7 linked regions of the Homo sapiens genome follow. The protein of the gene in region 6 purifies or fractionates together with the protein of the main gene of each other region. This does not show direct contact. Each region holds a gene or a part of one and is shown on either strand. Other genes may lie near its edges.

The links.
Region 1: the proteins of L3MBTL1 (region 6) and KDM5C purify together in Homo sapiens (tandem affinity purification; one study listed by IntAct). This does not show direct contact.
Region 2: the proteins of L3MBTL1 (region 6) and TUBB6 purify together in Homo sapiens (affinity purification with mass spectrometry; one large-scale study listed by BioGRID and IntAct). This does not show direct contact.
Region 3: the proteins of L3MBTL1 (region 6) and EHMT1 purify together in Homo sapiens (affinity purification with mass spectrometry; 2 studies listed by BioGRID and IntAct, with this or other methods). This does not show direct contact.
Region 4: the proteins of L3MBTL1 (region 6) and TASOR2 purify together in Homo sapiens (affinity purification with mass spectrometry; 2 studies listed by BioGRID and IntAct, with this or other methods). This does not show direct contact.
Region 5: the proteins of L3MBTL1 (region 6) and ZNF644 purify together in Homo sapiens (affinity purification with mass spectrometry; 2 studies listed by BioGRID and IntAct, with this or other methods). This does not show direct contact.
Region 7: the proteins of L3MBTL1 (region 6) and MECOM purify together in Homo sapiens (affinity purification with mass spectrometry; 2 studies listed by BioGRID and IntAct, with this or other methods). This does not show direct contact.

What each region holds. Positions count from the first base shown.
Region 1 is NC_000023.11:53,208,208-53,211,707, forward strand, and holds part of KDM5C (lysine-specific demethylase 5C), read right to left. Parts: intron 3,449-3,500; coding exon 3,290-3,448; intron 2,651-3,289; coding exon 2,469-2,650; intron 2,370-2,468; coding exon 2,207-2,369; intron 1-2,206. UniProt on the Homo sapiens protein: Histone demethylase that specifically demethylates 'Lys-4' of histone H3, thereby playing a central role in histone code. Does not demethylate histone H3 'Lys-9', H3 'Lys-27', H3 'Lys-36', H3 'Lys-79' or H4 'Lys-20'.
Region 2 is NC_000018.10:12,318,241-12,321,740, reverse strand, and holds part of TUBB6 (tubulin beta-6 chain), read right to left. Parts: intron 1,206-3,500; exon of another isoform or gene 1,079-1,205; coding exon of another isoform or gene 997-1,078; intron 1-996. UniProt on the Homo sapiens protein: Tubulin is the major constituent of microtubules, a cylinder consisting of laterally associated linear protofilaments composed of alpha- and beta-tubulin heterodimers.
Region 3 is NC_000009.12:137,622,005-137,625,504, reverse strand, and holds part of EHMT1 (histone-lysine N-methyltransferase EHMT1), read right to left. Parts: intron 1-3,500. UniProt on the Homo sapiens protein: Histone methyltransferase that specifically mono- and dimethylates 'Lys-9' of histone H3 (H3K9me1 and H3K9me2, respectively) in euchromatin.
Region 4 is NC_000010.11:5,740,338-5,743,837, reverse strand, and holds part of TASOR2 (protein TASOR 2), read right to left. Parts: coding exon 3,341-3,500; intron 1,742-3,340; coding exon 1,312-1,741; intron 1-1,311.
Region 5 is NC_000001.11:90,980,536-90,984,035, forward strand, and holds part of ZNF644 (zinc finger protein 644), read right to left. Parts: intron 1,836-3,500; 5' UTR 1,819-1,835; coding exon 1,775-1,818; intron 1-1,774.
Region 6 is NC_000020.11:43,528,197-43,531,696, reverse strand, and holds part of L3MBTL1 (lethal(3)malignant brain tumor-like protein 1), read right to left. Parts: intron 3,041-3,500; coding exon 2,952-3,040; intron 2,495-2,951; exon of another isoform or gene 2,434-2,494; coding exon 2,329-2,433; intron 1,414-2,328; coding exon 1,278-1,413; intron 900-1,277; coding exon 808-899; intron 1-807. UniProt on the Homo sapiens protein: Polycomb group (PcG) protein that specifically recognizes and binds mono- and dimethyllysine residues on target proteins, thereby acting as a 'reader' of a network of post-translational modifications.
Region 7 is NC_000003.12:169,086,713-169,090,212, forward strand, and holds part of MECOM (histone-lysine N-methyltransferase MECOM), read right to left. Parts: coding exon 3,288-3,500; intron 2,472-3,287; coding exon 2,288-2,471; intron 1-2,287.

The sequences.
Region 1 (3,500 bases), on a different chromosome or scaffold from region 6:
CTATAGGAAGGGCAGGGCAGACAGAGGGCTGGGTGGTAAAGTAGCAGCTGGCCAGAGAAGATGATGAGCCACGAGCAGGAGAAATGCTGTGGAGGTGTAAGCAAAAAGCACGTATTTTGGATTCTGTGATAAAGTTTTTTAAAAAGCGGTAAGGACTAAACAGCTCCATGACCTTCTGCATATGTATATATACATATATATACACATACATATATATATATATATATATATATATACACACACACATATATATATATATGCCTCTTAGCTACCCAAATCCTTCAGAGAATCCTTTTTTTTTTTTTTTTTTTTTTGAAATGGAGTCTCTCCACCTGTTGCCCAGGCTGGAATGCAATGGCACGATCTCGGCTCACTGCAACCTCCGCCTCCTGGGTTCAAGTGATTCTCCCGCCTCAGCCTCCCCAGTAGCTGGGACTACAGGCACGTGCCACCACGCCCGGCTAATTCTGTATTTTTATTAGAGACGAGGTTTCACCATGTTGGCCAGGCTGGTCTCGAACTCCTGACCTCAGGTGATCCGGCCGCCTCAGCCTCCCAAAGTGCTGGGATTACAGGCATGAGCCACCACACCCGGCTCTTTTTTTTTTTTTTTTTTTTTTTTTTTTGAGACAGGGTCTCACTATGTTGCCCAGGCTGGAGTGCAGTGGTACAATCTCGGCTCACTGCAACCTCTGCCTCCCGGGTTCAAGCGATTCTCCTGCCTCCTGATCCTGAGTAGCTGGGATTACAGGCGTGCGCCACCATACCTGGCTAATTTTTGTATTTTTAGTAGAGACTGGGGTTTCACCGTGTCGGCCAAGCTGGTTTTGAACTCCTGACCTCAAGTGATCTGACTGCCTTGGCCTCCCAAAGTGCTGGGATTACAGGCGTGAGCCACCGTGCCTGGCCAAGAGAATCCTCTTTTACAGTTTTCCATGGCATTATAGACAAGGACTGATGCTGTGCTATGGGTCAGGAAGAGAGAAGTCTAAGGAAAGTCAGACCCCATGTCTACTTGTAAAGCAGCAGAACTCAAGCCCTTGATCATCATCCTTAAATGGGGTGAGGTAGAGAGAGAAAAGGATAACTCCCTGAGTGGAGGAAGATTGCCTGAACTGTTATAGGACACCTCCTTCTGTCCAATTCCCTAGATATCCCAAGTCCTTGGTTAAATATCACTAAATTTTATAATAAAAAAATATTACTCATGGGGCATATAGTATACCAAAACAAGGAGAAGGCAAAAAGAAATGCAGGTGAGAACCACTGACCTAGTCCAAAGCCCTACTGTACAGATATCTAGGAATATCTGAAGGAGACATTAATTCAGTATTTATTGACTATCTCATACATTAGAGTAAGTGGTAATGTGTCCAAGGCCAAAGAGCGTGGAAGGGTGTAGGGAAGAGTAGCAGCCCCGGATAATACTTAAAGCAGAGATAGAGGATCTACTAATTCCTGTTCTTACAGGACTAGTGATCAGGCTGTTTTAAGATCCACACCAGAAAACTGGCTGATGCTAATCAATGCTAGAAATTCCCAGGAATATAAAGTCTCTCACAGGTAAGCCATGTTGTATACCCAGCAAAATGTTTTAAAGGGTAAGAAAGAAGTACACAGAGGATAGACCAGAACTCTGGGTTCAACTTTTGACCTGTTAAATAAAAAGACCTATCCACTGCTCTGAGAAGGGTAAGAGTATACAAAGTATGGCAGAGGCTGCTAGTTGTACCTCGATATTCATTCTTGTCTTCTGTCATAACAACATGACCTCCAGTTTTAAGTGGTACTTGACCATCCAAAATAAGAATTACATTTCCCAGTTTTCCCTGCAGCTAGATGTGGTCATATGACCAAGTTTTTACTAACAGAAGGTGAATGGAAATGATGTGTGCCTTTAAAAGATTTGTCTAGCCCTGCACTTCCCCACTTCCCTCTTCCACTGGCTGGAATGTAGATGTGATAATAAGCCACCCCTTAGCTGTTACCGTCAAACACATGGCCCAGAGGGCATACCATCATACGGTGCATCTAATCACTATTATTTTGGGTCTCTACTAGACTAGTCAAACCCGTAGCCCAATTAAGAACAGCAATGAAGAAAGGCCAGGGGCAGAATACAGATGACAACCACCGCCACCACCACCATCACAAAGGACATCACTAAATCACTCCTGCCGCTTGTCCCTGTTGCCTGGGTACTCACTGGCACACCATGGGACATGAGGGTGTTGGGATTCATGAGGGTGACAAGTTGGTGCAGGAGGTCAGGCTGGCTATCAAATAGTTCAGGTGTCAGCTTCTTCATCACTTCTTCCAAATGTTCTGCTGCAAGTGAGGGCACCCCATACCAGGTCTTCGGCTCACCCCTGCACAAGTGGAAAAGGGACACACACAGTAAATCACACCTTGGTCATGCAGGGAGCCCACACTGACTTGATTCCCTGGCTCCCCAGGGTCCCACTCACCAGTGGAGGTAGTTAATGGAGTAACTCCAGTGATCCTCAATATGCCAGCAAAAGGCTGAGAAGACCATGCCCACGTAGAGCCAGGGCACCTTCATGCCAGAGATATCTGCATTGATGTGGCACAGTACAGACTGTTCCAACACCGGCATCACATTTAGGTTCCAACCACTGGTAGCATACTCCTGCCAGGTCAGGTATTTGTAAAAAGGGCATGAGGGTTATGCTAAGGAACTGAGATCTTAAGTCATTTTCTTTAGCCTAGGGAACCTTAATTTTGAGGTCAGAGACTTTTTTGAAACATCTTAAGAAACATATAGGTTTTCTCCCTACCTCTCCACCAAAAAGCATACACACAAAATTTCAATTGTATTCACTTCAATTTCTACGAAGTTTACCGATATATCCACCTACCAAAATACCTGCAAGTTAAAAAAATCCTGCTCTGGATCAAAATGTACCCTTTCTTGGAAGCACAACTAGGCCCTCATTTTCTCCTGTGCATACAAACCCCACTCCCTGAACACTACTTATGGATGAGCCAGGATCTCATATACCTTCTCATTTAATTTTTATAACAAATTTGCAAAGTAGATATTATCCCCATTTTAAAGATAAGGAAATGGGCTCACAGAGGCGAAAGAACCCATCTCATGTTTGTACATGCCAGGTACCAGACTGTTTTCTTTCATCTCATCTAAATCTCATGGCTACATAAGACAGGCATAATTATCCTCATCTTACAGAGATACTGAGTTTTTCAGATACTAAATGATTTGCCTAAGCTCACACAGCTGACACGTAACCATGAATCATCCACTCACCTCCTCTTCGGGGGTTAGGTGCCGTTTACTGTCACTGACAGGGAAACCGCTGCCAAATTCTTTGGAATGGATGTCAGCTCCATACTCAACAGTCACATCTTCCTCAATGCTATTTACCAGCCTCCAGAACTCCTTCTCCACAAGTTCTGTGGGCACCATCTGGGGGAAGACAGGTAGCAGATGACTATGGCCCATCACACCCTGGACCCAC
Region 2 (3,500 bases), on a different chromosome or scaffold from region 6:
AACTAATTCAAGTCATAAAAACTTGCATTGCATTATACAGACCTCTCCCCACTTACTCCAACTTGACTTTTGTCTACACACGGCTGGTGGCAACAATTCACAGCCACTGCCAAAGACCAGCCTCTCTGGTTTCACGTGGGCAGGTCCATCCCTGATGCTGCACTCACCCTGGGGGCACTGAACTATGAAGCAGTGAAACCACCAAGGCTGCCTCTGAGAGCTGCCAAGTGCTACATCGGGTAAGCAAGCTGCCTTTCACTTGTCAATCTTTAATTAGTGGACAAGGGGCTCCCATGCAATTTGGGACACGGGCCTGCTCACAATGAGGTCTACTGATGGCACCCCTGGCTTCTGCAGTACATAACAAGTGCAGCCTTACACAGTGGCTCTACTCTTGGGGGGGATGAAGCATTTATCAGTGCTACACACTGTAGGTGTTCAGTGCAAGAAAAAACAAATTCTGTGATTCTTCATTAAGTGTACTGAACTTAATGTTAAAATGTATGTACTGGACTGTTAATAACTCATATCACATATAAAGGATACCCTCCTTCAATATCTAAAGAAGTCCTTAAATCAGTAAGAAAAACAACAGCCATTAGGAAAACAGGCAAAGGCTATAAACATACAGCTCACAGGAAAGGAAATTCCAATAGCTTAGGTACTGGAAATAATGCTAAACCCTTCTCATAAGGGAAACGCAAATTAAAACAAGGAGATTCTATTTTTCTGCTGTGAAACTGACAGAGATCCAAACACCTGAGTTGCACTGCTGAGGGTTTGGGGAAGGCCACTTCCCACGGGAGCTACTGGAGATAGCAAGGGCAGTGGGCTGTAGAACAGCTGAGCTACAGCTATCAAAATTATCCCCCTAGACACAGCAATTACACTTCTGTAAGTTTTTCTAGATAGACCCATACATGTGCAAAATGACATATATACAAATGTTTACTGAGGAACAATTTATAATAATAAAAAGGGGAACAACCCAAATACCTATCAACTGAAGACTGGTTAAATCCACGGCGGTATCTCTGCAGAGGATACTATCAGCCATCAACAGGAATGAGGCAGCCATACTTGTGAAATGGAAAGATCTTCAAAATACGTTGCTGGGGAGCCAGGGAGGAACACTAGGGTACTAAACAGTGTATACAGCTGGCTCCATTGTATGTGTGTAAATATATGCGTCTGCCTGAACATACCTGAAAGGACATTCAAGAATCTTAACACTAGTTCGGGGTAGGAAGGAGATCAACTTTTCACTATATACCCTTTTGTTCCTTTTAAGTCCTAAACCATGAAAATGTTTTACCTAGCTAGCTAGCAAAATGAAAAAAAAAATTACTTTATTAAAACATTTACAATGCAATTAAGAAAGCACAGGTTGTCTTTGAAGGATGGGGTCCTAAGAGAGTTCATTTCTAGCTTTATGACATTTTAACTAAAACATTTATTTTATGATAAGTGAATATTAAAGTATAAAAAAGGAATTTTTTATTATTATTATTTTAGAAATGGGGTCTTCCACTGCTACCCAGGCTGGAGTGCAGTGGTGCAATCATAGCCACTGCAGCCTCCAACTCCTGGGCTCAAGGGATCCTCCTGCCTCAGCCTCCTGAGTAGCTGGGACAATTAAAAAAACATTTTTTTGGCTGGGCACGGTGGCTCACGCTTGTAATCTTAGCACTTTGGGAGGCCGAGGCGGGTGGATCACGAGGTCAGGAGATTGAGACCATCCTCGCTAACATGGTGAAACCCCGTCTCTACCAAAAATATAAAAAAAATTAGCATGGCATGGTGGCGGGCGCCTGTAGTCCCAGCTACTCCGGAGGCTGAGGCAGGAGAATGGCGTGAACCCGGGAGGTGGAGCTTGCAATGAGCTAAGATCGCACCACTGCACTCCACCCTGGGCGACAGAGTGAGACTCCGTCAAAAAAAAGAAAAATTTTGTAGAGAGGGTCCCCTTATGTTGTCCATGTTGGTCTTAAACTTTTGAACTCAAGTGATCATCCTGTCTTGGCCTCCCAAAGTGCTGGGATGGCAGGTGTGAACGCCTGAGCCCAGCTCTTCTTTAATGAAAAATTTTAAAATGTCATCAGTAAGTGGGAAATTACTAAATGATGACATATACAATGGTAGGCACTGTGACTGTCACGGAGGATGTCTGAGATACATTAATGAATTTTTCAAAAGGCTGCAAAATGGTGTGTATAGCAGGATCCCATTTTCCCCAGACAAAATCAGCTCTGTGTGCTCACCTAGGTGCACATGGACACAGAAAAATGTCAGCAGGGCCGGGCGCGGTGGCTCACACCTGTAATCCCAGTACTTTTGGGAGGCCGAGACAGGAGGATCACCTGAGGTCAGGAGTTCGAGACCAGCCTGGCCAATATGGGGAAACCCCATCTCTACTAAAAATACAAAAAATTAGCTGGGTGTGGTGGCAGGTGCCTGTAATCCCAGCTACTCCAGAGGCTGAGGCAGGAGAATTGCTTGAACCCAGGAGGTGGAGGTTGCAGTGAGCCGAGATTGCGCCATTGCACTCCAGCCTGGGCAACAAGAGCGAAACTCCGTCTCAAAAAAAAAAAGAAAAAAAAAAAAAAGGAAAAAGGAAAAATGTCAGCAGGACACAGCACAACTGTCTACACACTCGGTTATCCCCCTAGGGAATAAAACCTCAGGGGCCACCAGTAGAAGGGATGACAGCTTTCCCTTTCTGCACTGTATACACAATCTATGTGTACTGTTTGAAAAAACCATGTACAAGCACTTTGTTTTAACTTTGACATGAAAACATTAAACACTTTTTTTTGTATAAGACCAGCTATGGGAGCTCACACCTGCAATCCTAGCACAGGAGGGTGAAGTGGGAGGACTGCTTGAGCCCAGGAGTTTGAGGCTACAGTGAGCTATGATCACACCACTGCACTCCAGCCTGGGTGACAAGGCGAGACCCCATCTCAAACAAACAAACAAACAAAACCACACATTTAAATATTGAACACTGAAGTTTCCAGAGAGCAGAACTGGCCAGCTGAAACTGACCACAGAGGGCCCTTGCACTTGTCTGCAGCATCAGCCTCCCTAGATCTCCGTCTCAGTCCCACTGAGAAATCAGCTCAGCCTTTCTCTCCTATTGTCTTTGCCCCATTTGGCAGTCCAAAGCCCAGTGTCACTGGCATGGCAGGCCCTATGGCTCTGCAGAGGGGCCGGGCTAGGCAGATGCCTGCTGTGTGCTTGCAGCACACCCCGTGGGCCTGGCCACTTTAGTACTCTCAGGTGGCCGTTTCCTTGTGTTTTTCACAAGCCGTAGACAGCATCTAGTATGTGACTGTTCTCTTACAAACAGGGGATTCTCTTCTTCCTGCCCAGCTGTGTTGCACAGTGAATCCTAGCTGACTGCCTTCTCTTAGTAGGCGAGAAAATGGTCACCGTCCTTCCTAAGCCCCCACCAACTTCTCTCCACCCCTTCCCCACCCAACCTAGCAGGCAGCACC
Region 3 (3,500 bases), on a different chromosome or scaffold from region 6:
TTAGCCAGGCATGGTAGCACGTGCCTGTAGTCCCAGCTACTTGGAAGCTGAGGCAAGAGGCTTGCTTGAGCCCAGGAGTTCAAGACCAGCCTGAGCAACATAGTGAGACTGTCTCTCTCCAACAACAACAACAACAACAAAAAACCTCCTATAATGAAAGGGTGTCAATCTTCAGATTTCACAGCTACTTAGGCACCTGCATAATACATAACAAAAGGCTAGCACTAAACGCATGATAAATATTAGGAAAATCACGGATGCAACGATCCTAAAGGTTCGGCAAGGGAATAGTGCTTGCAAACGGTTAAGAATGAAATTGGGCCTTGCCAGCAAGGTGGCCCACGCCTGGAATCCAAGCACTTTGGGAGGCTGAGGCGGGTGGATCACCTGAGGTCAGGAATTTTAGACCAGCCCAGCCAATATGGCGAAACCCCATCTCTACCGAAAATACAAAAATTAGCGGGGCGGGGTGGCAGGAGCCTGTAATCCCAGCTACTTGGGAGGCTGAGACAAGAGAATCACTTGAACCCAGGAGGTGGAGGTTGCGGTGAACCCAATCGCGTCACTGCACTCCAGCCTGGGTGAAAAGAGCAAAACTCCATCTCAAAAAAAAAAAAAAGAAGAATGAAACTGGGCCAGGCTCGGTGGATCATGCCTTTAATCCCAGAACTTCAGGAGGCCGAGTTCAAGACCAGCCTGGGCAACATGGCAAGGCCCTGTCTCTACAAAAACAGAAAAATCACTGCCGGGAACAGTGGCTCACGCCTGTAATCCCAACACTTTGGGAGGCTGAGGCGGATGGATCATTTGAGGTCAGGAGTTCGAGACCAGCCTGGCCAACATGGTAAAACCCCATCCCAACTAAAAATACAAAAATCAGCTGGAGTCCAGGCATGGTGGCTCAAACCTGTAATCCCAGCACTTTGGGAGGCTGAGGAAGGTGGATCACTTACTTGAGGTCAGGAGTTCGAGACCTGCCTGGCCGATATGGCGAAACCCTGTCTCTACTAAAATTACAAAAATTAGCCAGGCGTGGTGGTGCCCACCTGTAATCACAGCTACTCGGGAGGCTGAGGCAGGAGAATTGCCTGAACCGGGCAGGTTGCAGAAAGACAAGATCACACACCACTGCATGCCAGCCTGGGCAACTGGATGCCAGACTGGGTGAAACCATGTCTCAAAAAAAAAAAAAAAAAAGAGGCCGGGCATAGTGCCTAATGCCTGGCCTGTAATCCTAGCACTTTGAAAGGCTGAGGTGGGCAGATCACAAGGTCAGGAGTTCAAGACCAGCCTAGCCAATATGGTGAAACCCCGTCTCTACTAAAAATACAAAAAAATTATCTGGGCGTGATGGTACACACCTGTTAATGCCACCTACTCAGGAGGCTGAGCCAGGAGAACCACTTGAGCCCAGGAGACGGAGGTTGCAGTAAGCCGAGATGGCGCCACTGTACTCCAGCCTGGGCAACAGGGTAAGACTCCATCTCAAAAAAAAAAAAAAAAAGAAAGAAAGAAAAATCAACCGGGTATGGCGGCACACACCTGCCGTCCCAGGTACTACTCAGGGCACTGAGGCAGGAAGATTACTTCAGCCCGGGAGGTCAAGGCTGCAGAGAACTATCATTGAACCACTCCTCCAGACTGTCTCAAAAAGAAAAAAGACCAAACCAGACTTCTCAAGAGCAACAATGAAAACTGAAAGATATTGGAGCTATGACTTCAAAATGACTTTCCAACCTACCAGCCAAACTTACTAAGCGCACGGGCAGAATAAAGACATTTGCGGCCGGGTGCGGAGGCTCACTCCTGTAGTCCCAGCACTTTAGGAGGCCGAAGTGGGCAGGTCACCTGAGGTTGGGAGTTCAGGAGCAGCCTCGCCAAGAAGTTGAAACCCCGTCTCTACCAAAAATACAAAAATTAGCCAGGCACAGGCGTGGTAGCAAGCACCTGTAATCCCAGCTACTTGGGAGGCTGAGGCAGGAGAATCGCTTGAACCCAGGAGGCGGAGGCTGCAGTTAGCAGAGATAGTGCCACTGCACTCCAGCCTGGGCGACGGAGCGGACCTCCATCTCAAAAAAAAAAAAGAGTAAATACATTTTCAGACACGCAAACCCCAAAAGTTCACCGCTTACCACACCTTCCTGGCTAGCTAACGGAGAGTGTGTTCCATCACCAGGAGGGAATAAACAGTGAGCAGCATCAGACACAGGGAAAGGTGAGGAGACTCCTTTGGATGATGCTGTGTACCAGGCAGAGGGAACATGCATTCTTTTTTTTCTTTTTTTTTTTTTTGAGACGGAGTCTTGCTCTGTCGCCCAGGCTGGAGTGCAGTGGCATGATCTTGGCTCACTACAAGCTCCACCTCCCGGGTTCACGCCCTTCTCCTGCCTCAGCCTCCCGAGTAGCTGGGACTACAGGCGGCCGCCACCACACCCGGCTAATTTTCTTGTATTTTTAGCAGAGACAGGGTTTCACTGTGTGTTAGCCAGGATGGTCTCGATCTCCTGACCTCGTGATCCACCCACCTCAGCCTCCCAAAGTGCTGGGATTACAGGTGTGAGACACCGCGCCTGGCTGTATTTTTTTTTTTTTTTTTTTGAGACAGGATTTTGCTCTGTCACCCAGGCTGCAGGGCAGTGGCACAATCACAGCTCACTGCAGCCTTGGCCTCCTGGGATCAAGCGATCCTCCCACCTCAGCCCCTCAAGTAGCTGGGACTACAGGCACATACCACCACCACACCCAGCTAACTTTTTTACTTCTAGTAGAGACAAGGTCTCACTCTGTTGCCCAGGCTAGTCTCAAACTCCTGGGCTCAGGGGATCCTCTCATCTCGGCCTCCCAGGCATGAGCTGCTGGCCCTGGCCAAGAACATACATTCTGATTGGGGCAGGATGAACATAAGAGAACAAAAATCTTCTCTAATCTAAATCTTACACTAATTCACCATTAATGGAAGTCCATAGTCGACCCCTAAAGTTGGTGAATAAAGACATGACAATACAAACATATATTTAGAAACATGAAGTAAATGCTCAAGAGATGCAAGTGGGCTGCTTCTTCTCTAGAAAGACAGAAGATGATCGGCCGGGGGCGGTGGCTCACGCCTGTAATCCTAGCACTTTAGGAGGCCAAGGCAGATAGATCACTTGAGGTCAGGAGTTCGAGACAAGCCTGGCCAACATGGTGAAACCCCCATCTCTACTGAAAACACAAAAATTAGCCAGGTGTGGTGGCAGGCGCCTGTAATCCCAGCTACCAGGAAAGCTGAGGCACAAGAATCACTTGAATCCGGGAGGCGGAGGCTGCAGTGAGCCAAGATCGGGCCACTGCACTCCAGCCTGGGCAATAGATCAAGACTCATTCTCAAAAAGAAAAAAAAGGGGGGAGGGGGGAGGGATAGCATTAGGAGATATACCTAATGCTAAATGACGAGTTAATGGGTGCAGCACACCAACATGGCACATGTATACATATGTAACAAACCTGCACGTTGTGCA
Region 4 (3,500 bases), on a different chromosome or scaffold from region 6:
TACTAAGGAGATTGTTAGGAATCACTGATTTGAACAGTCAGGCTTGCCAAAATCATTGCTAAAATTAGTACTGATGATAGTTAATTACATATTACCACGACAAATGGTATTTTATAAGAAACTAGCATGTATATATGTATTAATTTAAATCTCCCTGACTAGACTATATTTTCTTATTCTAAGGTGGTGATTCTTAACTGGATTTTATGTAATTCTTTGAGAATAGGATGGAACTGCTGAACCCCATCTTTAGGGGAAAAAAAAAGCACATACATAGTTAACATTTAGGTTTTCTAGACTGGAATCTTGGCTTGACAATTTTCTATGTGACTTTAGGCAATTTCTTTACTTCTCTATGCTTTAGTCTCGTCATCTATGTAATGGGGAGATTAATAGTCTTTAACTTATTTGAGAATGAACTGAGTTAATATGAGTGAAGGGCTTAGAACTCTTACTTTCTGGCACACAGTGACCCAGAAATCTTTAATTCTCATGATGATGACAATCACTTGAAGATATTCACGGGTTCTATGAGGCTCACCCAAGGACCTCCAAGTCCCCGGTGACCCCGGGTATAGGAACACTGTCTACTCTTTCTTAAGACAGGAATCAGAGATGCTGCCCAAACCCAAGCAATATTATTCTAGAATAAATTTGGGCGGAAAACTTTAAAAGGTAGGTAATTTTGTCAATTCATTTGCTTAGAATTTTGTTAACAACTTTTAGATTTGCTCCAGGTAAAATTTGGATTATCTGGCCTGGTTGAATGTCAGTTGAGAACAAGGAACAAAACAAAGTATATTTTCCATATTTACAAATAGTTATTTGCAATGGGTCTTCTTTCACAGGTCTGGCATTTTACTATTCCAGCATCTGTCTTCAAAAATAATTTTAATACAATTAATTTTAGTTTACTTTAAGGTTTATCAAAGTATATCTAAGATTTATTATTGCTATATTTGATCCTTAAACAATATTCTACATAAGACTTGATAGGTATTAAGTCACCTCTTTTAAAAATTAGGCAAAGAAGCAATTTGCCCCAAATTATGCTGGGCTCCCAGATCATGTGGACCCTGTGACATTTTTCTACTCTGGTTTTTTTCAATCGGGATGGCAGGTAAGCTCTACCTGCAGACAATTCAAGGACACTTCATGAAAACTAGGTTTTTGGTGTAATAGTTCTTTACATACCTTGAGAATTCACTGTCCTAAAATTTAAAAATGCCTTGTTTTGAATGTGATTTTACATATAAACATTTTTTTCTTCAAAAATAATGCCAACATTTAACGGTATTCAGCTTTACATACCTCATTATTGTAAGAACAGATGAAATTCTGGTCTTCTTGGGTGTCTGGATCACACTCTCTTGCAAAAGTTTTTTTCTGTTCATTTTGTACACAGAGTTCCAAGCCTTGGGTAAGTGGTGTTTTAATGAAAGGAAGCAAGCAGTTAGGATCACGGAAGGATACTTCAGCAGCATGAGCCCTGGAAATTTCGTTAGTCTCCAACAGAGAGTCTGCAGAACATTTTTCCAAACCAAGGGACTCCTCAATTTCACGGAGCTCACAAGATTCTAACGTGCTATTTATAGACACATATTTTGCTGGGTTGCTGTGTTCTACAACCTTTCGGGAAGATCGTATGATTTTGTTCTGATTGCTGTAAAACAGAGCTACCCACATATGAAGTAAAAGCTTCACTTCTTCCACATTATCAGGCAAATCAGTATTCCAGGGCCTAAGAGTTTACAGAAAGAACACATGAAAATCATTGAAAATGGTTATTTTAGTTGATTACCTTATCATAAGCAAGTGCCTCCAATATTCCTTAGTTTTTGTTTTTATTTTTAAAATTTACAGATATGAAACATGAATGAGTAAATATGTAGTTGACTTAACAAATAATTATCCATCTAACCCACTCATTTTACAGAGACGGGAACTGAGAATCAGAACATGTAATTGCCTTCTTTCAAATCACAAAACCTGTATGGCAGAACCATGATCTGAACATGGGTAGCACGTGTCTTTTACACCATACAAATTCACTCTGGACACAGAATACTTATTATAGAAATGGTTTCGCCAATACCCAAATCCTCATCACCATGCTTTTGCTAAGTCTGGCTGATTCATTTATTTTCCATTTTTGTGTCTCTCTTCTAATAATTGAGAAAGTCTGAAGATAAAATATCTCTCTGGGCAATTCAACAGAACTATACTATTTTCAGACTACAGTTCTGCAAAATATCCTGAAACAGTAAGGGGAAATAGAAAACATTTCTGGCCACCTGGCAGGCAAAAGGATGGCAGATCGCTGGAGTACCATAAGTCAGGGGGGCTGCAGAGTTGGGCAATAGCTAAACAGGAAGTTCTAAGGAAATGACCCTTATGAGTATATATGAACAGGTGTATAGAAGAAAGCCTGACAGCTGTAGAGTCCATATAGTCAGATGTGAAACAGTTCATTAATAGGGAGCTGAATGTCAATTCATATAGCTAATGAATGCTTGCTAACAGTGATGGTTACCATTTATTACTACTACTGGCCAGTCACTGTGCATCTCAATATATGTAACCTCAGGACACAGCTACATAATTAAATGTTGGCCACAGACTGTCATCCACCATTGATATCACCTGAAAATTTGTTAGAAATGCAGAATGTCAGGCCTCTCCCAAGGAGAATGCATCAAAATCTGCAGTTCAGTGAAATCTCTAGATGAGCAGCACACACAATTAAGAAGCACTGTCCAGAAGCAAGAAACTTGCCCAGGATCACAGGAGGTAAGAAAGGGAAAGAACCCGGGTTCAAATCTAGGTTAGTCTACACTCCAAAGCCTGTGCTGTTCACCACTCTGTTATTACTGACTTGATTCCTTCTTAAGGGAGATCTATAGAACAATCTTATGTGAAACTGCTTACTCCTATCAATCTGACCAATTTACCAAGCTACAGTGATTTTTAAAATGTTTCTTCTGGAATTCAGTCTGTAAAGCATTATTTCTAAATCTCACACTATTTTACATTAAGATCTCATCTAAAAATTGAAATTCAAAAGCCACAAGGGCTTACGAGGGAGCATTGCAAAATGGAAAGCTATTCATTAGGCTAAAATTATCTTTAAAAACTTCTCCACATGAGCACAGGGGGAAAACCAGCCTGTTACTCTTAATTGCCAGGAAACATGTTTGCTTGATGTTATTATCAAATTACTGGTTTTAAACACAACACTTCTTTCTCCTTCTCCAGAGTTTGGCATAAGTTTCCCCATCTCACTACATTCATCTCAACAGAAAAGTTTCATCCATTTTCACTAAGTTTCACTCATACTCACCCATGTAATGCTCTTACTACAGTTTTCTCCAGTGGGTTGTTGGTATATTTGCTGTCTAAACTGAATGCATATTCTGTTTCACATTTGAAAGTGATCTTAACGGAGTCATCACAGCTAAGCACTATACGAGAGCAAGAAGATTTTTTCACACGGGCAGACG
Region 5 (3,500 bases), on a different chromosome or scaffold from region 6:
AGGAACAGAGATATGGAGAATCCAATAAACCAAATCACTGAGAAAACATAAATACTTTGTAGTGTGTTCATACAATGGAATATTACTAAAAATAAAACAGCAATAAAAAATAATGAACTGCTGACATAGTCACAACATAGATGAAGCTCAAGAACATTATGTTGAATGAAAAAGCCACATACAAGAGTACATACTATATATAAAATCCAAGAACAGGCAAAACTAAATTATGCTGACAGAATTCAGAAAGATGATTACTTCAGGGGAAAAGGCTATTAGACTGGAAGCGGGGAAAGCACAAGGAACTTTCCAAAGTAATGAAATGTTCTATATCTTGATCTAGATGGTGGTTACACATATGAATGTGTATGTGAAAAGTCATTCAGCTCTATACCTCAAATTTTATGTTACCATATATATGTAAACTATACCATAATAAAAAAGAAAAAACTACATATATAAGCATGGTGAAAAATAAGGTCAGAATAAGTTAAACCAGTGTCATCCCACAAGCAATATCAAACATAGAAAATCAGAACAAAAGTTTTAACAGACACTGTATATTCAACTAGAAAACAAACCCTAATAAGACCTTCAAGTACAAAAGAATGGCTTCTTCTCCACTTTAAGAAGATACATAGGCAAGTGTTATTTCTAATAAATGCTACAGAAGTAAATTATTATTCCTAAAGAAAAACAGCCCACTATAAAGCAAAAAATAAAATTTTTCTACACAACAAGAGGAGGTACTATAACGATCAATAAGGTATGACAAGCACTTAACAGAATTTAGAGCACAATAAGTACTCTTCAAACTACCACTACTGTTATTATTATATAATAGCAATAAAAGCAAAATTTTGCTTCAAAACATGCCCAAACCACTGACTGAGATTTCCTTCAGTGCATATTACTGAACTACAGCACTTTTCATCCTAGACTTTTTTTTTCTTTAACAAACATTGAGATCAGCAAATTTTTGACAGCTGAAACATCTGGTTAGAGGGAAAACCAAGTTAACTCCAATTTTTTCAATGTTCTTTTTCCCTTGTTTCCATTTTGAAGCCATATTCACTTACCAATAAATAGTAAATGTATCTTTTTAAAACATGTCAACGGCTTATATTATTAAAAAGCATTCTTTCACATACCAAAGTACATGATGCCAATTCAATTTTTTAAAAGTGAACAGCCTTAGAAAGCTAATCAGAATGCTATATTAGAGAGGTCATTCAGTAGAGACACCCACTAGGAAAACATTAAAACAATAATTTACAATTTTGAATACTATATTAACAGAAAGAAATCACAATTTGGCAAATTTATCCCATTTGGGAAAGTGCTTCCTTAACATTAAAAATGAAGCAAAATTCACAAAAGCAATGACTATTCATATACTTTATCAACAAAGGAGAGAACAATGAAGTGACACAATAAATGTCTTACTGAAGTGGTCAGAGTTCAATAAGAGTGGCTGAACCAAACATTAACTTGATTTTCTAACATTTTAGAATATTCACTGGAAACTTGAATGCTTTAGTTAACCTCAACACAAAAGAAGGAAACTAAAAATTTAGTTCCACAATGTGATAGTTATAATTTTACTCCCATCAAATCAACTGGACCAAGTGTGTCAAAAAGTCAATTATTTGCATTTCAAAATTTTATTTAAAAACTCTTTGGTTCTGAACTCAACACCACATTTTTAAGACATAATTTTTTTGTATTATTCCTACCTTGATATGTACATTTAACAAAGCAGTCTTCTACTTACCTAGATTTTGTCTTATTAACATCTTGCTGCAAGAACGATCTCATCCAAAATTAAATCAAACCTGAAAGAAATACACACAATGACCAAGGTTTAATTTTTTGTTTCAGGCATGAATAACCATAGCTACAATACACTATTATTTTAAATGAAAAAACACAAACCAAATTATATTTCTTGATATAACATAAAAAAACCATTCAACCAGAATACCATCATTTTAATCTTTAGGAAACTATTGCTAAGTGCCCCCCAACCTCACTGCTTTTTTTGAGAAATAATAATCTATTCAAATGAGAAATTGAAACTAATTCTTTTTTTTAAAAAAAATTCTAAATTGTTTTCATTAATTTTAATAGTATGGCAATGGCAATAATTAAAATAATTACTAAAACACACATCTTTCTAGATCAGTATTTATTTAATATTATGTACATATCAAGACACACACCAAACAGCTGAAGACAAAAATGTTATAGTATTGGAACACATAAAAGTATATACACATAAAAGTATATAACAAAGTAATTTGTTAGAGCAACCACAGTAATTATCATAATAGCCAACACTGATTACTTACTAAATGCCAAGCATCATTATTCTAGAGAATAGAATGTATCAATACTCCCCATCTTCAATTTAATCTTTAATCTAGTATAAAGTGACTTCTACACCAACAATCCACTGAACATGCATTTGCCAAAAATATATCCACCATTACTAATTTTACCATATTTCAGAACTTCTGAAAACTCAGTATGTCCCACACTCTACATATCTCCTCCTCCCCATACCTGAAACTAGCTTGTGACTCTTCTAAATTCTCTATTCTTTAAAAAATAGCACCACCACACCTACCTCTGTTCTCAAGCTAGGTTACTTTAACTGTTTTATTTCCAAACTATCATCTCTGATTTGTCCTTCCTAGAACCACAGACCTAGAATTTTCTGCATCGTATCTAGAAAAGATGAGATATTTTCTCTGCCACCCAATGCCATCATCTCCCACCAACCCAGAAGTGGACATGGGGGCCTGTTAAAAACTAAACTATAAAATAAAAGTAAGAACATTAAAAGTCTATTATAAACGACTGAGTGGGATAAGCTGAACTATTGCCCCACAAAAGACTTCCACACCCTGATCCCTGAAATCTGACAATGTTACCTCATATGGCAAAAAAAAAAAAAAAAAAAAGAAGAAGTCTTTGTAGATATGATTAAATTAAGGATCTTGAGAGGGAGGATTATTCCGAATTATCTGGGTGGACCACAGTGCAATCACATGTATCCTTATAAGAACGAGACACACACTGAAGGCAATGAGAAGACAAGCGGAGAGGCCGGGCACAGTGGCTCACACCTGTAATCCCAGCACTTTGGGAGGCCAAGGTGGGCAGATCACCTGAGGTCAGGAGTTCGAAACCAGCCTGGCCAACATGGTGAAACCCCGTCTCTACTAAAAATACAAAAGTTAGCTGGGCGTGGTGGCACGCGCCCGTAGTCCCAACTACTCAGGAGGCTGAGGCAGGATAATCTTGCTTGAACTCAGGAAGCGGAGGTTGCAATGAGCCAAGATCACGTCGCTGCATCCAGCCTAGGCAACAGAGCAAGACTCTGTCTCCAAAAAAGAGGAAGAAGAAGAAGACATGGCAGAGAGAACTGAAAATGCTGCTTTCGTAGACTGGAAGGACATGGGCCATAGCCAGGAATGCCAGCACCCACCAGTATC
Region 6 (3,500 bases):
TTGCTGAGACCGGAGTGCAATGGCGTGATCTTGGCTCACTGCAACTTCCGCCCCCCAGGTTCAAGCGATTCTCCTGCCTCAGCATCCTGAGTAACTGGGATTACAGACACCCACCACCACGCCCAGCTAATTTTTTATATTTTTAGTAGAGATGGGGGTTTCACCATGTTGCCCAGGCTAGTCTTGAACTCCTGACCTCAGGTGATCCACCCGCCTCAGCCTCCCAAAGTGCTGGGATTACAGGCATGAGCCGCCACACCTGGTCCAGTATGATATTTTTAATGGAGGCTCCCTGTATCTCTTAGGCCTTTTGGTTGGGATTATGAGATACTTTAACTGCTGGATAAGCTGCCAGCTGCCCTGAACAGAGGAAAGGACAAGGGATGAATTGTTGGAAATAAATGGAAGAGTCTCAATGTTGGGCAAAAGGAAAGAAAAAGAAGCTCCCAGAATAGAGGCATTGACCTTACACCAAAGAACTGCAGAGCAAGCCAAAGCAAGAATATATGAGCAATGACATCTCAGTGCTCAGACTAGGGTAGTGGGCCAGGGGCTCCAAGGGGATGTGAGGACAGGGTATCTGCAGTAGCAAAGGAGGGAGGGAAGTCGGGAAAAACCTATAACCAGCTTCCCATCTCTGGCCCTGGACCCTGCCCAGCTGTACCCCTCCCATCTGATATGAGAGATCAGAACAAAGCTGAGAGAACCAGCACATGAGCTCCCTTCTGATGAGTCAGATACCCTGGGCCAGCTGCAGTGAACTCTGGCACATGGGAGTGACATCCACTCTCACTCAGGGGCACTCACGTGGCTCTGGCTCACAAACAGGTGCTTGGGGGCAGCCTGAGCTCTTGTGCTGCGCAGGTACTGGCTCCAGCTGAACTCCTCCTCCTTGTAACCTAGGCCCCTCGAGGGGCATGAACAGAGCGCCGTGCAGAGGCTGGGCCACAGCAAGGGCACCCCACAGTGAAGCAGCAGAATCAGGCATGCCTGAGGACCTCCCCCCAACCCTCAAGAACTTGCCCAGGGATTCCCCACTACTGAAGCAGGACACGACTTGAGTAGACACTCAAAGGGCAAGTGCAAAGCGGAAGTTCTAGGGCTTCTGGTCAACTTGGCCCCAGCGCAGAGTCATCAGGATGCGATGAAGAGAGGCTGGCTTTGGAACAGGGTACAGGGTCAGAAAACAAAAGAGCTGGAAGCCGGGGACCCAAGGGGAAGAAGCGAAGGGTCTGAGGACTCACTGCCTCACTGTGACCAACCCAGCTAGGCCTTACCTTTGGGAGGCTGCAGCTTGTGGCCCGTCTTCTCGAACCAGCCAGCAGGGTGAATGTCAGGGGAGTTGGCATTGACCCAGAAGTCATGGCACTCAGAATACCCATCAAAGTGCAGGCGTAGGCGATAGCCACATACCTGGCCCCATGAGGGGAATCAGGAACTCCAATGTCAGGAGATGCCCCACTCCCCATCTGCCTCACCTCTCCTGGCCCAGTCTGGTGGTCTCAGGGGCTCTAATGCTAGCAGGTTCCCCAACCCCACCTTTCTTTCCTCCCAATTGTACCCCACCCTGTCCTATTCTACAGTGAGGACAGTTCATGTACTCATGAGCCCTGAGTTCTGGATGCAAGGGAGGTGGACCCTATGACAGCTTCCTGCCCTTTTGAGCCCTGGACAGAATTCTGAGGGCAGCCACCAAGGCTCAGGACTGCTGAGGGCTCCTGATGACCGCTCCCTCTGCTACCTTCTCTCACTGCTCCCCACTCGCACTCTGCTTCCAGTCTTGCTGAGCTAGTGGCAATTCCTTGAAGGTAGCAGTCTGTTCCATGCCCCAGGGCTTTTGCCCACTTTGCTCCTTCTGCCTGGAGCTCCCTCCTTATTCACAACTTATCTCTCAAGACTCTGCAAAGGAGGCCCTTCCTCTATGCTTTTGCTGCTCCTCAGACAGAACTGACCCAACTGTGCCTCCCAGCTCAAGTCTGCTGCCACCCCTGTGGCATGTCACTGACATGTTTATTTGGCTGATTCCCCAGACAACTGTGAGCTCCTAGAGGACAAGGACCTTGTTTGACTCATGCCAACATCCCTGGCCCTCGGGATCTCCTCAAGCTCCCCCAGAGTGGACAGTATACATTCATCCAATAATAGGACTGTCCCATGAACTCCATCTGGTTTTTGTTGTTTTAAGCTTTCTATGTATTCCAGCTTCATCCACTACTAGATTGTGTGTGCTCTGAGGGGAGGGAGGTGTTTCCTTCTATGTCCCCAGCAAGATCCATCAATCTGCACTGAGAGACATCATCAGAAAGGTGGTACCAAGCCCCAGCTCACCTCAGCCACGGTGAGGATGAAGTACATGGACGGGTGTTGAGGGTCAATGCCTTCCAACTTCATGCCCAGTTTGAAGCCATTCTTGTTGTGAGTGACTGCCTGGGACTGTCAACGCACAGAGTGGAGAGGACCCAGCTTCCATCCAGCCTTATCCTTGCCTAGTGGGCTTGGGGTGAAGGAGCTGCCTTTAGGCCCCACCCGCCTGGTATTTCCAAAGGGGCAACTTATTTGGGGATCGTTACTACAGGGATCTAGAGAGAGAGAGAGAGAATATCTCCCAGGTCCCTTGAAAAATGTGGGTGAGTCAGGGCTGGACTCAAGGGCTCCCTCTCACCAAAGTCATGGAAAGATCAATGCTGAATTGAGTAGAAGTCACCAGAATTCAAAAGTCTGCAGGCCCAGTGATGAGTGAGCCTAGCTTCCACCTCTCTGTTTCTTCCCACCCTGCCAGCCCCTTATGGGGGGCCCTTTTCCACTCTGGGCCCCTAAACAGTCTCTCCCTTTCCATTCTGCCAGTCCACTGAGGCATGCCTGACACAGAAAACGCCAGAAGGCCTGAGGTTGGTGGTGTGTCCCTAGGCTAGGAAGACAAGCTGTTCCTACGGGGAAATTGTCCAACTCACGTCCTGGAAGAGGCTGACTGGAGCAGTAATGGCCTTCTGCTCCTCTAGGTAGGACTCCCACGACCAGCATTCCTTCTTCTCACCTGTTGCTGTGGAAAGGGGACAGACAGGCTAACTCCTGGGCTGTTCCTGATATATGACTTTCTTCGGCTTCCCCTGACCAAGCTCTACCTTCACCCCCAAAACAAATCTTTGTCTGTGTTCACATGTACCCTCTGGTCCCACCCACCATGATGGTGCCAGACACGGGGCTGAGGGGAGGCTCAGTCTCAGGTGTGGCTACACCAAATTCTGCCCGTCACTTCCCCCCCACCCGCTCAGGCCACTGTCAGCAGAAGTACTCTGGATTATTCAGCAACTGACTGAAGTTACAAAGTCTCAGCCACAGAGGGACCCTGTCCTCTGACATGACAAAGCTGAGTGACAAGTCCTGTGCCAGAGAACTTAATCACAATGCCATCTAAACTCACAAGGAAAGGAGAGGAAAAAGAGAAATGAGAGAGAAAACATGAAAATAGGAAGAAGTGGAAGGGTTGGGAGAAACAAGAA
Region 7 (3,500 bases), on a different chromosome or scaffold from region 6:
CGGATAGAGTTTCTTGAGGGAGAGCACATGCAAAATGCAGCTACTATTGTACTGGTCAACTATTTTCAATTCAATCACTATAAAAATTACAGACTATAAAAATTACAGAATAAATATATGAATGCTTTGACTAAAGCATCTGAGCCTTTAGATTCTAGAAAATGGCAAAACAGCATATCTGCCTTTTGGTAATCAAAGGAAATAAACATTTTCATATATAAGGATCAGTGCCCAGCATATAGCTGGTAGTTAATAAATGAACGAATGAATGATATTATGAAATAAAGTGAATTTGCAAAAGGGCCTGACCATTTTCAAACTAATCTATATAACATGATCAAGTAACAAGAAAAATATGACTTAGGATTGCAAAATGCTAGTGTTTCTTATAACAGTAACAGTCCAGCTGGGTTGGGACTTTATGTCAAAATGCTGGTACTAAAATGTATTATAATTATATCCCTTATCTGTAGGTTTTCAGGCCCTTTTGCTTTCTGTCACTTCTGGCAGTTTCTGGAGTGTTTAGGTATTATATCTTACAATAAATAAGAAGCATTTTTGGTGGACTAATTAAAAGAAATTTAAAAAGAAAAAACCATGGCCAGGTGCAATGGGTCACACCTATACAAATCCCAGTAATTTGGGAGGCTGAGGTGGGAGGATTGCTTGAGCTCAGGAATTTGAGACCAGCCTGGGCAACATAGTGAAACCCCATCTCTACACAAAATTGAAAAATTAGCCTGGCATAGTGGTGAGTGTCAATAGTCCCGGTTATCCAGATGCCTGAGGTGGGAGGATCACTTGAGCCCAGCAAGTCGAGGCTATAGTGAGCCGTGATTGCACCACTGCACTCCAGTCTTAGCAGCTGAGTGAGACCCTGTCTCAAAAACAAAGAAACAAGTAACAAAAAACCAAAAACCTTGATACTCAAGTTATCTCTAATCAACAAGGATGGAAGAATGGGAAATCAAGGGTTAAAAAAAAATACTAGCCACCCCTTATGGATGTCTCTAAGTAAAAATGAAATGTCTACTCTAGCTAGTTTACCTTTAATGTTAAAAACTGGAAACTTCATTTTTATCCCCATTGAATAAAAATCCACTTACCCCTTTTACAATGAAGAAATGGTACCTATAGTCTTTAAGTGATGTTCTTAAGTTCATGGAGGTAGGCTCTAGGAGCCTCTGTAGATGGTGGCTGCTTTAACTTCAGTTGAGAAAGAACATTTATTTTACCTATTACCATACATAATATCTCAGAACTTTTTACTAAATTGAATATTATTTAATGATTTGTATTATCCCATTGACACAATGTTTTTCCCAACTTCCTTGGGATATTATTACATTTGCTGTTAAGACAAACCCAGACATCTTACCCAAATAGAAAATCATTTCCAAATGTACAAACTAATATGGTCACATTGCAGGTCAGGCCACATACAAAATGAACTAATGGATCAGGCAATTAGACCACAGTGCCCAATAAATATGGTAATAGGAAGTTTCTTTATTTTTAATTGACCTGAATGAACAATCCGGTTGAGTGTGGATGTCAAACAAAAAAGTACCGACTTCCTTTATTTTGTAACAAAAACACTGAGGCTCTTTTAATTGCTATTTATGGACCCTTAAATAGATTTATTTTTAGTTACCATAGTGCTGATACAATGTTGTAGAGCCTAATAAATTTGAGTACCATTCATTCACTCATTCATTTGTTGAATTTAAATTGACAGGTTTTATTTCCAAATCTGCCAGTAAGTTGGTGTAGACCTTTGGCAACTCACTTCCTTTCTGATCCTCATTTTACTATTAAATTACAACATGAGATGACTTGCTAATTAACTACACCTAACAATTTACTAGACATAGAAGGGGACAAAAAATAGAATTCACTTTTCAGAAAAATCTTAAAATATAATTACATTGACAAAAGTATAGACACGGAAAATGACTCTGAGGTAATACATAAATATTTGTAAACAAACATGATGAACTAACTGTACAAAAGTAAGAGAATTGCAAAGTCAAGGAAAGATAAGTGTAGGATGGGGCTTGTCATAAAATTTCTATACAGAATGCAGCTAAATTAATTGCTTTCTTGCTTAACTATTTTGGATTTGGTCATAAATACAGTAAAGATATGAACATTTTTAGAAAGGCATCTGACCCCATTTGGATTCTAAAATATTTCAAAGATAGAATATTTGCTTTTTGGTAATCAAAGGAAATGTACGTTTCATGCATAATGTAACCATGATGCTGTACTATGGGAAAATCTGTACCTGCGATTTGGACTTTCTGTGTAACGGCTGCTTAAGTTCCTCTGGCACATGGGAAGTACTAAAAGAAGACAGCTCAGCTTCAGAATATTGATTATCTTCCATTTTCCTCATTTTGAGGCTATCTGTGAAGTGCCTTATATGATCTAGAGCAGAAAGTCCACTTTTATATTCTTCCTCTTTATACCTAAAATGAACCAACGAAAAACACAGAAATTTTCTTTTCATTTGTTATCTAATCAAATCACTTTCATTTGAATCTATCTATACAACTGACAAACTTCATATTGTATCTGCAAGGTAAAGTAGCATGCATCAATTATTGGGTTTTTATAAATACTTACAAACATCATGTCTTAAAAATATATTTCTGTTAAGATTTTTAGTAACTAAAGCCAAGCATATATTTGAGATAAAGAGTTAAAGTCAGTGACACATTAGTCAGTAATAGGCAGAGACAGAATTCATATATTCATTATTTCCATTTAAAGTAAAGCTAATTATGACAATATTTAGTCAACATCCATCATGAAAATATAATAGTCCCATCAATTTAACTGTTTGGTTATTTCTTTTCATTTAAAAAGTTATCATCTATATAGATCACATATATATCTACTGAAGTGAAGTTTATCTCAATTATACTTAACTGATGACCATGCCAGATTATTGTATAATTAGATAACGTCAAAATCTCTATTTTTCTTTGAGTTTTATAGGTAGAGTCTAACAATAAATGATTGTGTACTTATGTAATTTTCATTTTATCTTTCCCACCTCAGGTTAATCAGAGTTGCACCAAACCTGATGTATTTATATGCTTGTGGATTATGTTGATAGCCACCTTATTTTCATCTATTTAAATCTGATCCACCATGTATCCCTTACTAATTCAAGTTTAATTTTTGTGATTTATAACTCACAAATTGCTTATCACAGGAGGAATTGCAACCGTACATGGATCTACTCTAGCTTAGTTTCTAAAGTCACCCAAGGTACTCACCTCACTGGGGATGTCTTGCAACTCATCTCCAGGGCACTGGTTTCTTCATAGTCATCCTCAGGGTTTCCTTCATGTAAATTACTTGTCACTGGTTCCTTTCCTGTTTTTCCAGTAATATCATTGTCTTCATCCTCCTCATCTAACAACACCTCATCTTCAACTTCTTCATCATCCAGCAAGTCTGAATTTTGACTGGTCACCAAAGCCTTTTCA